Linked DNA regions of Homo sapiens. The protein of the gene in region 2 interacts with the protein of the main gene of each other region in a biochemical or structural test. Each region holds a gene or a part of one and is shown on either strand. Other genes may lie near its edges.

The links. The genes of interacting proteins can lie anywhere in the genome.
Region 1: the proteins of FBN2 (region 2) and MATN2 form a complex in vitro, tested with the Homo sapiens proteins (one study listed by BioGRID).

The regions. Positions count from the first base shown.
Region 1 is NC_000008.11:97,927,608-97,935,063, forward strand, and holds part of MATN2 (matrilin-2 isoform a precursor), read left to right. Parts: intron 1-3,345; coding exon 3,346-3,915; intron 3,916-7,456.
Region 2 is NC_000005.10:128,330,282-128,339,245, reverse strand, and holds part of FBN2 (fibrillin-2 precursor), read left to right. Parts: intron 1-184; coding exon 185-313; intron 314-1,123; coding exon 1,124-1,249; intron 1,250-3,132; coding exon 3,133-3,258; intron 3,259-3,668; coding exon 3,669-3,791; intron 3,792-3,950; coding exon 3,951-4,076; intron 4,077-4,401; coding exon 4,402-4,527; intron 4,528-6,211; coding exon 6,212-6,334; intron 6,335-8,550; coding exon 8,551-8,673; intron 8,674-8,964.

The DNA.
Region 1 (7,456 bases), on a different chromosome or scaffold from region 2:
GTTACTTGGGCTGCCAGGACTTGGTGTTTTCAACTCAGAATTACAGCTTTCTTGGAACCTCCAACAACATTTTGAACCTTTGTGGCGTTTTTGTACATGTGCAGGTGTTGTGGAAACTACCCATTTGTTTTGAAGGGAGAGAATCCAGTTTAGCACACAATTCTCCATGGAACTTCCAGGCTTCCCTTTAAATTGATTGTGATGCTTGGATAGATATTGACACCATGACTAAGACCCATAATAAAGGCCCAATCCAAGGAGGCTCTGCTACTTCCAAAGATCTCCAAAGGAAGAGAGTTCTCAGAGTGCGAGTCTTGTGTGAATTTCCCTCCCTTCAAAGGTGCCTTAATTAATATCCTCCTCCATGGCAGGGTCTAAGCCTGGCCCCTCTTCTCAGCAGGTAAAGATTATTGGGTCACACTCTCCCTGCAGTAAGTTCAGACATGAAGGGTCGGGCAGGTGTGGCTCTTGGAGAGGGCCTGCCTGGGTCTTGGGAATGCTCCCCCTTGTCCTCCTTCCTGGGATCTGCAGATCCATCATCTACTGCCCCAACCCAGGGCTATATGCTAAACCACAGGAGCCTTCATGAAAATTAGAAAAGCACTCCTGCCTTTTTTTTTTTTTTTTTTTTTTTTCTGAGGTGGAGTCTTGCACTGTCACCTGGGCTGGAGTGCAGTGGCGCCATCTCAGCTCACTGCAACCTCCGCCTCCTGGGTTCAAGTGATTCTCCCGCCTCAGCCTCCCAAGTAGCTGGGACTACAGGTGCGTGCCACCATGCCTGACTAATTTTTTGTATTTTTAGTAGATTTGGCGCTTCACCATGTTAGCCAAGATGGTCTCAATCTCCTGACCTTGTGATCCTCCCGCCTCGGCCTCCCAAAGTGCTGGGATTACAGGCGTGAGCCACTGCACCTGGCTGAAAAGCACCCCCCTTAAGGTGCCTCTTAGGGTGGCTCAGCCCCTGGGGCTCAGGGCTTGGCTGGATTTCAGTTCCTCTCACCTCCTTGAGCAGGTGCCTGTGTGCAGCACCAACCACATAGCCATAGCTGTAACCCTGCCCCTACCCAGCCTGGGGCTGGACACGAGTGAGGGCTGATGGAGGGGTGGGGAGAGCCTGTACATGCAGCCAGCACACGTCGGGAGTTCCCAAGTGCTGGATCCTTCATTACATCATTTCCTTAAATTCTTACAGCTGCCCAACGAGGTGGATATTGGTTGCACCTCTGTATATTTTTTTCTTTTTCTAAATTATGAAAGATTTCAAACTCTCAGTGCTCCCATGTTCTCATCTATGCAATGGGTATGATGCTTCTTGATCCTTTCTCAAAAACTTGTTCTGAAAATCAAATCACACCAAGTGACAAAGTGCTCTGGAAATGTTAGGTTTCATATAGATCTTATCGCTGAACCCTCAAAGGCTCACTTTCTGGGGCCTCTGTTTTGAGACACTCACCCTGGACTCACCCAGCCCTCAGGGTTATGCATGGGTATGTCAGAACGTTGGTTTCTTGCCAGGCTACTGGTATTTGTGGGTGCCTCCTCCCCTAAAATCATTAGACTTGTGAGGCGGCAAGGATGAGTTGTGTGTGCAGGCACTCAGGGACGAGTCACAGCCTGGCAAGCTGGCCTGGACAGGATGACTTCATGGGCCTTTCCCACTTCTCATTTTTATGACTAGCTTTACTGTTTCATTTTGGCTTTCTCTCTCTTTCTTGCAGCTGTGGTGATTAGGATTTAGGGCAAGCATTTGGGATCCCTTTTCTAATACCTTTCAAATCCTGATTCAGCTGCAAAGTCCGGGAAGGGAGTAGAGAATGGGGGAGGAGGGACTCACCCTGGTGAAAGGCAGTAGCTCAGAATATCCGAGAAACTCCCAACAGGAATGCCCAGCCTCCACCCACTAAAGCTGGAGGCCTCTCATCTCATCCAATATCACCCTCGTACTAGAAACGCAAAAGGGATGAGTTTGTCTATGGACTCAAACCTTTACAGTCTTCTTGCTTAGCAGCTTAAGGCATAATTATGGTAGTCATGGTGGTAAGGGACTTAACATTTGCCTTTTTCCAATTTAACTGTGTCCTTTGTTGAAATATTTCTTAGTCAGGTCCCCTTTTCTCTATTTCCACTACTGTCCTAGGATTAGATCTGAGTCCCCCTCTCAATGAGATTAGTCCAGAAATTGTGTATACCATCCATCTTGCAAACCACTGCCAGACTCTGTTGACTTTTCATTATGTAACTTCCCTATGGGAGAGGTGAGTTACATAATATGATGCTAAGATGCCCCTCACTGGTGGCATCATGTACATATTTCTCAGTCTGAAAGGAAAGGTCTTTTTAAACTGGCTTCAGGCCATCTGTCCAACTAATTCCTGCCTGCAACTCCTAGTATACCCTCTACTACAAGGTCTCATCACTTATTCTGTTACCCACCACATTCATTCCGTCTTGGGCTTTGGTTCATGTGATCCACTCGATGTGCTCCTTCTCTCTAATCCAAACACCACGCATCTATAAGGTCAGCTCACGTCCCATCTCCTTGACCCCAGCCCATTCATATCCCTATTCTCTTAGCAGCTATTGTCAGGACGACACAGTTTTCATGCCAGTTATTCTTTCATGGTTTTATTAGTTAATTCTCCCCAGGTAGATTAGAAGCTCCTTAACTTTGGACCCTGTCCTAAGCTTCTGTTATATTCTCTGCAGTGCCCAGCCAAGCTTATGTGTCATGCAGTAAAGAATAAAATAATTTTGACCCTGATCAGGTGTTTGGTTACATAAAAACTGCATTGGCAACTTTCTAGAAACTAATATATTCATTTATCTTGCAAAAAGGATTGCTATCTGATTATAGCCAGTAGTCATGATCTTCCAGCCATGCACAAATATACCCTTATAACTTTCATGAGTGGGGAGGAAAATTGATGAAGGAGGTTTCAAAGGTGATCATCAGTCCCAGGATTTCCAACAATAGCCAGTCTGCCCTGGGTCCTTAACTCTCTTTTAATGTTTTTATTCTTATTTTTATTTTTTTAATGCAGTCTCACTCTTGTTGCCCAGGCTGGAGTTCAATGGCACTCTCTTGGCTCACTGCAACCTGTGCTTGCTGGATTCAAGTGATTCTCCTACCTCAGCCTCTCGAGTAGCTGGGAATACAGGTGCCGCCACCACACCCGGCTAATTTTTGTATTTTTAGTAGAGACAGGGTTTTACAGTGTTGACCAGGCTGGTCTTGAATTCCTGACCTCAGGTGATCCACCCGCCTTCCAAAGTGCTGGGATTACAGGTGTGAGCCACCACACCTGGCCTCTCTTCTAATGTATTTGACCTCTCCTCTTTCCCCAGAGAGTTCCTGTGAGAACAAGCGGGCAGACCTGGTTTTCATCATTGACAGCTCTCGCAGTGTCAACACCCATGACTATGCAAAGGTCAAGGAGTTCATCGTGGACATCTTGCAATTCTTGGACATTGGTCCTGATGTCACCCGAGTGGGCCTGCTCCAATATGGCAGCACTGTCAAGAATGAGTTCTCCCTCAAGACCTTCAAGAGGAAGTCCGAGGTGGAGCGTGCTGTCAAGAGGATGCGGCATCTGTCCACGGGCACCATGACTGGGCTGGCCATCCAGTATGCCCTGAACATCGCATTCTCAGAAGCAGAGGGGGCCCGGCCCCTGAGGGAGAATGTGCCACGGGTCATAATGATCGTGACAGATGGGAGACCTCAGGACTCCGTGGCCGAGGTGGCTGCTAAGGCACGGGACACGGGCATCCTAATCTTTGCCATTGGTGTGGGCCAGGTAGACTTCAACACCTTGAAGTCCATTGGGAGTGAGCCCCATGAGGACCATGTCTTCCTTGTGGCCAATTTCAGCCAGATTGAGACGCTGACCTCCGTGTTCCAGAAGAAGTTGTGCAGTAAGTCCTGCTCCTTTGTCACTCTTCTAGAGGAACCACTAGAATTCATTCATTCATCTTCAAGTGTTCATTCTGTGTTACTATGTCCCAGGTACTGTGCTGGCAATAGGTTTTCAACAAAGGCCAAGATAAACACAACGTGCTCCAGGGGCTTACACTTTGGCCAAGAGACACATGTTTTTATTTATTTATCTTTTAGAGACAGGGTCATGCTCTGTCACCCAGGCTGTAGTGCAGTGGCATGATCACAGCTCACTGTAACCTCAAACTCCTGGGCTTAGGTGATCCTCTTGCCTTAGCCTCATGAGTAGCTGGGACTACAGGTGTGCACCACCATGCCTGGCTTATTTTTTAACTATTTGTAGAGACAACGTTTCGCCATGTTGCCCAGGCTGATCTGAAACTCCTGGCTTCAAGCGATCCTCCTGCCTCAACCTCCCAAAGTGCTGGGATTATAGGCATGAGCACCCAGCTAAGACAGACATTAAATATATAATTATACAAATAAGTAACTATAGTTGTCACAGTGTAATGGAGGAAGAATTCAGGACATGAAGGAGTGTGCAACCCCAGGACCTTATCTAGGCCTGGATGCTCAGGGAGATTGCCCTGGGGAAGGGACACGTAAGCCCAAACCACAGAATGAGGAAGAGTAGATAGACAGAGTTTTTCTTCAGCACATGGAGCTGCCCTGGAATTCCCTAAGTTGGAATTCATGAGTTGGAGTACGGATAGGAATGGAAGGGCAGAAAAAGTAACATAATCTCTCCTTGGATGGTGTGGAATACCAAGGCATTTTTGCCCCATGGTGGTGCTGGCAGGGGATGTTTTCTCAGCTGACAAAGAGGTCCAGCGTATACAGAGGACCAAGGTGTGGTCCTGGCAGCTCCCCACCTGTTAAGATTGTAGGGGCCACTCCTCACCTGCCAACTCTTTCTGCAGGAAGATGCCTCTCGGAGCCCCTGAGCTGCATTCTTCTATGTTGGAAGCTTTCTTTCCTCTTTTGCTTTCTAACCCTCTTTTCACAGGGCTTCTCTCTCCCTTCCTTCCCACGCACTTTCCAGTTATCTCTACCCCTGCTGCTGCCCCCACTCTTCTCAGCAGGTCAGCCTGCATTCTCCCCAGTTTCCTGCCTCTGCGGCTGCCTTTTTGTTCCTTCCTCCTCCGGGAGGGCAGGGGGCCAGCCGCCCAATCCAGGAAACTCGCATCCTGATTTGGTAAACAATGTCCCACCCTGACTTGTCCATTCCCAGTGGTCCCTGTCCCCTCCAGCTACCATGAATCTTTGGTGGGGAAATAAAGGGAAATAATCTATTTTTAAATATCTATTTGTAAATTATCTATATGTAAATATCTATTTGTAAAATGTAAAATATCTTCCTAGAGCAGAGTGGAGAATGAGCTTTAGAGCCAGACTCAGCACCAACTCCCCAGGAGAGGGCACCCAGGAGGGGGTTCTCAGAATGTGACATATTCTAGACCTCTAAGATATAGCCCCCAGCGAAGAACAATGTGCTTTTGATGTGTATTAAACAAAATCCCCTGCTGAGAACTAACTTCAAAAAGCACAGAGATCTCATTTGTTCTTGACTCCGGAATCAAAAGATTTACTTAAGAAATCAATGCCATGAAGAAAAAAAGAACCTTTTTCCTTGCCATGCCACTTGGAAAGTGTTCAGAAGTGCCATTTCCCTGGCACTGCAGAGGCTGTGTTGTTGTGGTGTGTTGTGGCCTAAGTCAGCTGGAACACTTCAATCAGCAGAACACACTGCAAACATTTTCAAGGTTTATGACTTTAAATGACTTCTGCAGAATTTATGTTTCCCCTTTCCTGAAAATATTAAAAGGGAAATTGGTTCTGTAACCATTTTGACAGCTTATTCATTTGTGTTGGAAAATTTTAATGGAGGGGTTCTTTTTATAAGCCTTCTGTATTTATCAGAAAATGGAAAGATAACATGATAAGGCTGAGGAGCTACACAATGGGACTGACCGCCCCCCTCCCCCCACCCCCGCAATCCTGGTGTCGAATAGGATATACCAATGTGGACTTGTCTGTGGAAAAACCATCTCTGTGTGCTTTCTGGCAAGGCAGCAAAATGAAAAGGCAGTTTGGACTTTTCCTCCCTTCATCTTCTTTGTTATAATCTGGAAGCTCTAAGAAAACATTAGCGTTATCCCGCTTGTTCCTGTGCCTGAGAAATGAATCCCCTGTGAGTCCCCCCATCCACTCTGCAGGAGACAGGGCTGCTGTCTCTCACTGCACTGCACTGCCCGGCTTTGCTCAGCAGACTCAGCAGCCGTCTTGAAAGGCTGAAGAGGCCCCAGGGCCTCTTTATCAACTTCATGGTAAAGACTGTAGTAACTAACATTTATAAAGCACTTTCCCTTATGTTATCGCAGAAAGCCCCAGGAGGCAGGCAGCACACTCTTGCCACTCTCTTTTTACAGGTTAAGGAACTTGCTAAGTGAATCACCTGAAAAACAAATAGCCAAGAGATAGTTGGATGCTAATTCCAAACCTCTTGCTCATTTCACTCCTCTGCATGTTGGGAATTACAAATTCCTCTTTTAAGGTAAACCATTTTCTGGTGGCCACCTCCACAGTCCAGCCTGGCCAGGTAAACCTACTTTGCAATTGGCATTCACCTAAAATAGGTGAAACTCTGAAGGCAGCCTTCGTAGGAGGAAGAGGAGCTGACTCTAGTTGTACAATCTTGAGCAAATCCTTTGTGCTCTCTGAGCCTCAGTTGCCTCATCTGTAAAATGGGGATTTTATATGCAGAAAGTAGATGAGTGAACAGGTGTTGTAAATGGTAGAGCCCTATTCAGTGTGCACTGTGTTATGTATTATTACAATCAAATACACTGAGGACCGATGGGCTAGGCAGATGGCCTCAGTTTTGATCTGCACTCAAATGATCAGACAAAAATGGTGAGCATTTTCCAAGTTGCAGATGACATCTCTGAGGTTTGGGAAGTCTCATTTGTTCCTTAAACATTCATTGAACCTGTAAACCAAAAAGTATCTGAGACAAGTCCCAATCAATGTAAAAGTTTATTTTGCCAAGGTTAAGGACATGCCTGGAGAAAAGGAACACAAAATCACAGGAACAATCTGTGGTCTGTGCCTTTTTCCAAAGATGATTTTGAGAGCTTCAGTATTTAAAAGGGAGAGAGGGAGGGCATGGTCACATTACTGAATCCACATGTTGCAAGAGAAAAGGAGCAGGTAGGGGAACAGTCAATCATGTATTCCTCTAGTGCTCAGTAAATCAACACTTTACATAAGATAAGGTGAACATAGAGTAGCTACTTATGCAGATATTTAACCTTTTATCTGTAGCTATCTGCTTAGGAACAAAAGCAAAGGCAGTTTCTTGCATTACTCAGCTTTTAGCTTAATTTTTTTCCTTTTGGCATAGTGATTTGGGATCCTGAGATTTTATTTTCCTTTCACAAACTGTACCCCAATAATAGCTAATCTTGTCCTGTGCTAGGTACTTTCAAATACAGTATTCCACTTAATACTTAAAATAGC
Region 2 (8,964 bases):
TTTTGGCAGTTGGGGAAAGGAATGTGCCTCAGGTCCCAGGCCCTTCTATCTGGGTCTACTGAAAACATACCCTTGTACTGTTAGCCAGCAATTTCCCCAACTTTTCAAGCATGCAGCACCTTCGCTTGGAAGGCCAAGTCTATCTCATTCAATTTTTAAATTTCTTTTAAACCCTGTGAATTAGACATCGACGAGTGCAGGATTTCTCCTGACCTCTGTGGCAGTGGAATCTGCGTCAATACACCGGGCAGCTTTGAGTGCGAGTGCTTCGAAGGCTATGAAAGTGGCTTCATGATGATGAAGAACTGCATGGGTAAGCACCGTGAGCTCTTCCTCGCCAGCTTGAAACCATACTAGCACAGACTCATTCGTGCGCATGACCTTTGCTTATCTCTGGGCTGTGAACGGCATGTGTGGCCAGCATCTGTGGTGAGAGAGAGAAGAGATTTAAATGTCAGACAGGAAATGCGCTCCTGGATAGCTCTCGGGGAGCCCCAACCTCTTGGCGCCTTCATGGCAATGAGATACTCAGATTGGATCCTGTTTATTCATAGAATCTAAAATCACACAGACTGTTTATTTAGGTGGGACTACTTTAAAATGCATGGCATCGTGTGGTGGCCCCAAGATTTGTATTCAGTCATGCCAATCCCATGTTATTGCTCTTATTTGTGTACTATTACAAACTCTTTTGGTATTCCCAACCTTTTAGCCCACTGTTTAATTTTCAGTATGATATAAGACCTACCTCATAGGATATAGTAGGTTATAAGTCTAAGATTCTCCTTCACCCTGATTAGCGTTACAGACACCAGGATAACTGACAACAATATATCATGAGTCCGTGGTGATATAAAGCAAATATTATGTATTTCTACCCCTTGTGAGCCTGCTGATTTCATGCAATTAAATTTCTTGAAAGCTTACTACCTTTAAGAGTAGAAATTTTAGTTTTTCTGTTGGTCGTAGGAAAAGTGAGGAAAGCGTTATCCCATCTCCTATGAAGCATCTCTCTTCCACTAACTCACACTCTCACATCAGATAATATTCTTTCTCCCACGCTGTATGTGTGAATATTTTTCCCTCAGAGTTCTTTAATGGATCTCACGTTTTTACCTTTCAGACATTGACGAATGTGAACGTAACCCTCTCCTTTGTAGGGGTGGCACCTGTGTGAACACTGAGGGCAGCTTTCAGTGTGACTGCCCACTGGGACACGAGCTGTCACCATCCCGTGAGGACTGTGTGGGTGAGTTTATCTCCTCAGCACATAAACCTGCCCAGCACAACTGGTAAAGACCAGGGATCAGTTCTGACAAACCTGTTGTTTGAGGAGCACATGAAATCTAGCTTATTAAAAGGTGGAAATTGAGATTCCCTACATCTGGATGCAGGCTGTGTCTTTAGTGGATGCTTGGGTGACACACTCGAATAAGCTGGCATTCTTCTGGTTGGCCTCTTTTTTTATAACAAGCCACGTGATTGGTCCCTGTGTGAGGAGCCCTGTGGAAGTCCTTGTGGTCTCATCCTCCATTAGGAAAAAATGGGAAAGCTACTGTGTGCGTTGTGCACCTTTGCCCAGCGTCTTCCCATCCACTCGGCAGACTCCGCTCTACGCCCCTGTGCCTGCTCACGATCGGCTTGCACATGTGTGAACATGGCGCTCCCTTAACCCACTTCTCATGGAAACACTGGGTTTCCTCATTTGCCCTGAGCTCTGTAGGGCTGCCAGAAAGGATATGAGAAGACTAATGACTGGTCTTTGGGCGTTGCAACCTATTGCTTTTCACAATACATGAAGATCTCTGGACTTACTATGTTCCTAGTATACTGGCTTTAAAACTTTGTTTTAGCCAGAAAGCATGTTCTTCATAGGAACTCTTTCTTAAAACCGTAAGCAAATAAGACAGCCTAAAATAGAACAGATTGCACACCAAATTTCAAAACATAATTTGAGCACACCTTTCCAATACACATATATTTATTTATAAGCCTTATGTATTGCTTTGCTAGTATATGAGGTGAATTTTGTCATAGATAAATAGATATTTTAAAATGATAAATGAAAAGGTTTTTATGTTCTTATTTCATTTTAATAGCGGTACAAAAGGCTTTTTCACACTAATAATTGCAGAATATTTATTCATGGTTGAACATATTGAGGTATAATGAGTCACAGATCTAAGTTTACTTTGTTATTTAGTTTTCGTGGATCTTACAGCTTAAAAACGTATCCCCCAAAGGAACAATGCAGAATATAAAATATATATTTCTGTATAATATACACTTAGTGATCATAAGCATAAACCCATGCCATATAATCTTCTTGGTTATTTTGAGAATTTGGAATAAATTTCTTGTTATATCTGATTATACTGTACTGTTTTTTACCTTACCTTATACCTGACAAGTAGTTTACATAAGGAAGTGTATCACCCTGCCATTTTCTTCTGTTATCTTGTGATTACATTATTGGTACTAGTTTATTTTTAAGGCACCTGCCCATATTATAGGGGTTAGTTTATTTTTAAACAGGCAGTGTGATTTGTAGATTACTATCCCGACACACAAAACATAACACAGTGTAAACAATTAAATACATGAGGGCCCTATTGTCATGCCTCTGTCTTGTGGAACCATCAGTCTTCCATCAGTATACTTCAAATCATGTAGGCAACACTTCACCATCTAATATAGACCAGGTGAGCGTGCCAGTGTAAGTTCATATATTAAGTAGTATTTAGCTTCAGTTCTGGCATATGTGAAATCTGTGTGGTCTAACATGATAGTCACTAGCCATATGTGGCTATGTAAATTCAGTTAAAATTAAATAACATTAAATATTCCTTAGTTATACTGTCCATATTTCCAGTACTCAGTAGCACATGCAGCTGTGTATTAGACCGCATAGATTTGGGAGCAGTTGCATCATTGTAGAAAGCTTTACTCAACAGTATTGTTGTAGATGGAAATAGAGAATCCAGCATTTTCTTTCAATCCCCCAGGAGAACATTTTACTTCCTCGTGAAGTACACAAACCCCTTTGGAGACCACTGCTCTGGTGAAGCACCTTTCTGATGGCTTTAGTGAGTGGACATTGTGTAAAGCATTACTTCTGTGTATCTTTTATAGATATTAATGAATGCTCCCTGAGTGACAATCTCTGCAGAAATGGAAAATGTGTGAACATGATTGGAACCTATCAGTGCTCTTGCAATCCTGGATATCAGGCTACGCCAGACCGCCAGGGCTGTACAGGTAAGGGGAGACCAAGCAGGCCTGAAACTCATATGTCTCAAATCAGCCTAGGAAAACTTTTGGCGCTGAATTATAATGAAGGCTATGCAAATCCTTTGTCCCAAAAATGAATGTAAGACTAGGGGCAGATCTCAGTTATTGTGTGATCTTGCAGCAGACTCACTCATCTTAATGTAGAAAATGCTCTAATCCCCATAGTTCTTCTATTTCTGAGTTAATCTTAGGGTACTGCACTTAAACATGGAATGCTGCCTAAAATGAAGGTGAAAGAACTAAGAAAGATAATGTTCAATCAACACACATAGTGGGGAGAAAAATTCAAAGCCACATTAGCATTATCTGTTTAAAAAGAAGAAAACTCCTTTTAAGGAAGCAGACCTGACAATGTGGTTGCAATGCTGTTTTCACAGATATTGATGAATGTATGATAATGAACGGAGGCTGTGACACCCAGTGCACAAATTCAGAGGGAAGCTACGAATGCAGCTGCAGTGAGGGTTATGCCCTGATGCCAGATGGGAGATCGTGTGCAGGTATAGAAAGGAAAACACACAGGTTTTGTACATCTAACTAATTTTTTCTTGAAAATATGGCTCCAGATATTACCAAGTGGAACCAGATAGAAAACAAAAACATTTGAGATTGATGAACGACATTTTTATTTTCATTTGATGCTAATTTTGTATCATCAGACATTGATGAATGTGAAAACAATCCTGATATCTGTGATGGCGGCCAGTGTACCAACATTCCTGGAGAGTATCGCTGCCTCTGCTATGATGGCTTCATGGCTTCCATGGACATGAAAACATGCATTGGTGGGTATCATAAGAAAGGATAAACATTTATACACACACATGCACACACACCCACATGCACACACAAGCGTGATAAAAGGAAGGCTTTTTCTGTTGTTATTTTAAAAATTCAAATCATTTTACTAGAACTGTAAAATCTCAGGAAGAATTACTTTTAAAAATGTCTAAAGGCAGGTTGTATATTTATCTATAACACGATGATTTGCGGATGGATTATATTTTAGATCTTGCCTGTGTATTTCAGTATTATGCTATTCAGTGTAGAAGATAGCTTTTAAATTACTGTGATGAGCACATACTAAGATATTGAAAATAAATTTTCTAGATGTCAATGAATGTGACCTAAATTCAAATATCTGCATGTTTGGGGAATGTGAGAACACAAAGGGATCCTTCATTTGCCACTGTCAGCTGGGTTACTCAGTGAAGAAGGGGACCACAGGATGTACAGGTAGGTTTCAAGCTTGTGTTCTCTGTATTTCAACTTCTCAGATGTCAAAGGCCAACTTTCAACATCATTTGTTCTCTGGCATCTCTTAGAGCGGTTACCTGCCACCAGACTGTGACTGTGTGTGTGATGAGTGTGTGACCTATAGGATGTGTGATGGATTTGGCTGGTCTCTGTGGTAGCACGCTGTCTGAGCCACCCACCGTGGGGCTGGCTGTGGGCTGTGACAGAGTGAGTGAGTAGGAGTACAGTCTGGTTCCCATGGCCCTGACCACTTATGGTCGTTCATGCAGCATCAGTCACTTTCTGAGTATGACTGCTGCCCGCTTGGAAGACATTCATGTACAAAGAGCACCAAAAGACCCGAGGATCCCGGTTGCCATTTACCTCTGCACTTCTTTTAAACTAGTAAAAATTAATCAAGTTTCATTGAGACTCTTTCCCTTTCTTCCTTTCTCCCATCTTTTCCTTTCTTGTTTGCTCTTCTGTTTGCTTTTGTCTTCTCTTCTCTGTGCCCAAATTGCCTTTCTCTTTTTCCTCTCTTCACTTTCCTTCTTTGCTCACTTTGCTCACTTTGTCTTTTGTTCCCTTTCTCTACTACTACTACTAACTAGTTTTAGCCTTTTGCATGCAGGTGGGGCTAGGATGTGCCGGGGTCAAGGTTTTGGATCACGTATTCCTCAGTGCACAATTTAAGACTTATGTGTGATATTTTTTCAAGGCAGGTGGTGGAAGACTTAAGAGTCCAACCCAGCCCTTAAGCTGACCCCTCCAGTAAGGGGCAGATTATAAAAGAAGGTGTTCTTTGCATGTTCACCACTGACAGGGTTGATGTGAAGCCAGTAGTGTGTGTGTGTGTGTGTGTGTGTGTGTGTGTGTGTGATTTCAGCATCTATAATATGTAATCGTTGAACTAGATAGAACACATTACTATTTATAGTCAAGAAAGCTTTGGAGAACCAAATCTACATAGGTTATACATACATATATAGGGATATGTGTGTGTGTATACAGACACACAAATACACACACACACACACGCACACACACACACTGGCGAAAGCATCTGGCTACTTTCCAGATAACATTCCCAGTGAATATTTTTCTATAATCTCAAATAAGTAGAAGAAATAAAAATATACACCTAAATGAATAGTTTTTTTTAAATTCTGTAAAATATTTATATTGATTTTTTAAATGACAAATGATCATGTAATTTTAAAGAGAATAAACTATTACTTTTTTTAAAAAGTTAGATTCTTATCTTCATGAAAAATATGTAATAAATATCAATAGGAAGGAATAGCACCATCTATTATTGGAAATAAGATTTCTCTTGATCTGTAATCGAATGTCCTCTTTATGGTGTTGTGTCTGAATCTGGGCAGGGAAGAAGGCCCCAGGATAATACACATACCTGCCGGGGAGCAACACTGCTGTGTCTCTCTCTCTTCTACTGGAAAGTGGCTGACAGTTGTTTCTAGGGAAGAACTTGTTTTATTAGGATCATGAATTTTCCAAGTCCTCTTGGAGCCTACAAAAATTAAAAATAAAAGTTAGTTAGGCTACTCTTTTCTCCATACGGTTGCATCTTTACTTTAAAATGTTACCTATACAAAAATATACTTGGAAGTAGAATTAATTAGTTTGTATTTTGATTTTCTTCTTATGAATTATGGTTTATCAGATGTGGATGAGTGTGAAATTGGTGCTCATAACTGCGACATGCATGCCTCATGTCTGAATATCCCAGGAAGCTTCAAGTGTAGCTGCAGAGAAGGCTGGATTGGAAACGGCATCAAGTGTATTGGTGAGTTTGCAAATGTAAATATCCTTTGCTAAGGCACAAATTTTTAAAGGCTCTTTTTTGCATGGTTGTAGAATCATGCTCTTCACTTTTATTAATTCCTTTATAAAAAGGTTATCTTAGTTGCAAGATAATTCCTGCCTAAGGGTGTCCTTTACCCTTAATATAAATTATCAAAATTTCAACAGTATGCCTTGGCACCTGTTTTTTAATGTGTTTTTGTTCAGTAAAAATTGATATGCAGCTGGTGATCCAAACACAGCTGTATGATGAAAAATGACTAGTATGTTCTTCCAATCTTTTCAAAGAAGTAATCAGTGAGATTTAAAATCCAGTGGAATAAATGGAGAGCAATGAAAAGGTTTTTTCAGATAACCTAATTTTTTAGTAAGTCATCAATACCACCATCTTATTAGAAAATAGAATTCTTCTTACAGGAAATTGTAAATGCTTTCTTGCATTCCAAGAGGTCTTATTTGAAGAAAAAAAATAGGCAAATTCTCCAAGTTTTATGGTTCTTGAGCCAGAGTCTAAGAAGTCTTTTATATCTGAGAGGGAAGGGACTAGAATATACCCTGAGTGTCATTCACAGTTTTGTGTAATATGCTTAGTGTTTCACATGCCTTACAATAAAGCATTTTTCCAACTAGTAAGAATTTCTAGGTCAATTTAAAACAGAAAAGAAAGCAAGCTAAACTCACTTCCCCCTGATAACTTACAAAAAATATATAGGCCCTCAGTAAGGATTAAAGAATAGCTTTAAGATCTCTTACCAAAACTATAAGTTAATTTGAATATATACTTTTTTATCCATTCAAATATTTCATACTTATCAAAAGTTTATGTACTGACTATAGAATTTGAAGTATCAGAGCTTCCAAATAACTGCTAAATAACATCCTGCAATGGCTTAGTGAAGTGCCAGCCTCTAGTCCAGCCATCTTTCCAGGGTTACTATCATAACTTTTCAACCATACCCTCATTCCCATTTTCGTAGCCCCATGTGCCTACTCTTTTTCTCTTTTTGGCCTCCCATTTTTATGCTTCTTGTCCATCTGTCATTTTGGCCAACTATTGCAAAACAGCCTGCCTCTGATACAAGACATTCAGCTGTGTCCAGCCTCCTGTGCTCCAGGATGTCACCCAAATTCATCCTCTCCTTTACATCTTCTTTCCCCTACTCTAGTCCCAACCAGAGAGAGTTTCTGTCTCTCTCACATGCCCTCGCTCTTCGTGTCTGCTGAATGCTAAAAGAATCCCCTCTGGTATGTTGGCTTGTTCCCTCTCTGGCCCTCCTGCAATCCATTCTCCACGTAGCAGCAGGAGGAAGCTTTTAAACCATGGATTCGATCTCTTCATAGTCTTCACTATAACCCATTGAATTCGGGATAAAATTCAGCTTCCCTCCCTTGGCTGCGGGTTTCCACTGTCTCTCTAGCTTCATTGTCCATCACCCTCTGTCTGGTGCATTCTGCTTTGCCACTCTAACCTCCTTTCATTTTTTCAGTCACACTGAGCTCTTTTCCTCCTTGGTGTCTTACCATGCACTCGTCCCTCTGCAAGGAATATCCTTCCCCACCTCTGTTCAGCAAGTTAATTGTTTCTCATCCTCAGGTCTGACCTTAACTAAAAACTACTTCCTCAATGGGGGCATCTTTGTTCCTGCAGCCCAAATCAGATGCCTTTTTTATTCTCTCATGGCACCTTGTAACTTTTCTTCATGGCACATATAGCAAGATTTAGTTTTTTTCTGTGTTTAACATCTGTCTTTTCTGCTCAACTAAGGGATTCCATGAGGTCAAGAATCATATCTCTGTTTCCTCATCTATTAAATAAACTTAAAAACTCTTTGTTAATTTTCCTGCTCTGAAATTCAGTATCACCTTCAGAATTGATTCTTCTACTGATAAGGAAACCACTAATAAAATTCACCCTCAGTAGAAGTCAGAATGAGATCTAACACTAATTTGCTTTAAGCTGTTAAAAAATTCACGTTGACTAGATATCTCACAAATTGCTTGAATTCATAATTTTGGCCCACATTTATAGCCTGGACATTGGACATTGGGTCTGAGAGCTTAGCGAATTAGAACTGTGATCCTGCAAACTAAAATGCCTGTCATTTATCCAGTTTATATGTAAATTAAGACAAACGATAATCTTTCCAGGTGCTTAAATGTTCCATTTTCATTTCTGAACTTTATTGCTGTGTTCTGCAGATCTGGACGAATGTTCTAATGGAACCCACCAGTGTAGCATCAATGCTCAGTGTGTAAATACCCCGGGCTCATACCGCTGTGCCTGCTCCGAAGGTTTCACTGGTGATGGCTTTACCTGCTCAGGTGGGTGACAGTCCTGAGGTGTGCTCTGACGGGATGGTCATAGAACACTCTATATGCTTCCTTATTTGAAGAAAATTATAATTAAAGGAGACAAAAGTAACTACCTCTTTTTTTATACTTGACTTGCAGGTGACTATGTATCTTTCTCTTACATTAAACACAAAAACCTGAATGACTTTCCAAATATATTGTTGGAAGTTTTCAAATAACGGCATTTGTAACAATCATGTACTGTTAATGACTCGCCATTTTATCTTACTCATTTGTAACACAGTGGTTAAAAAAACACAG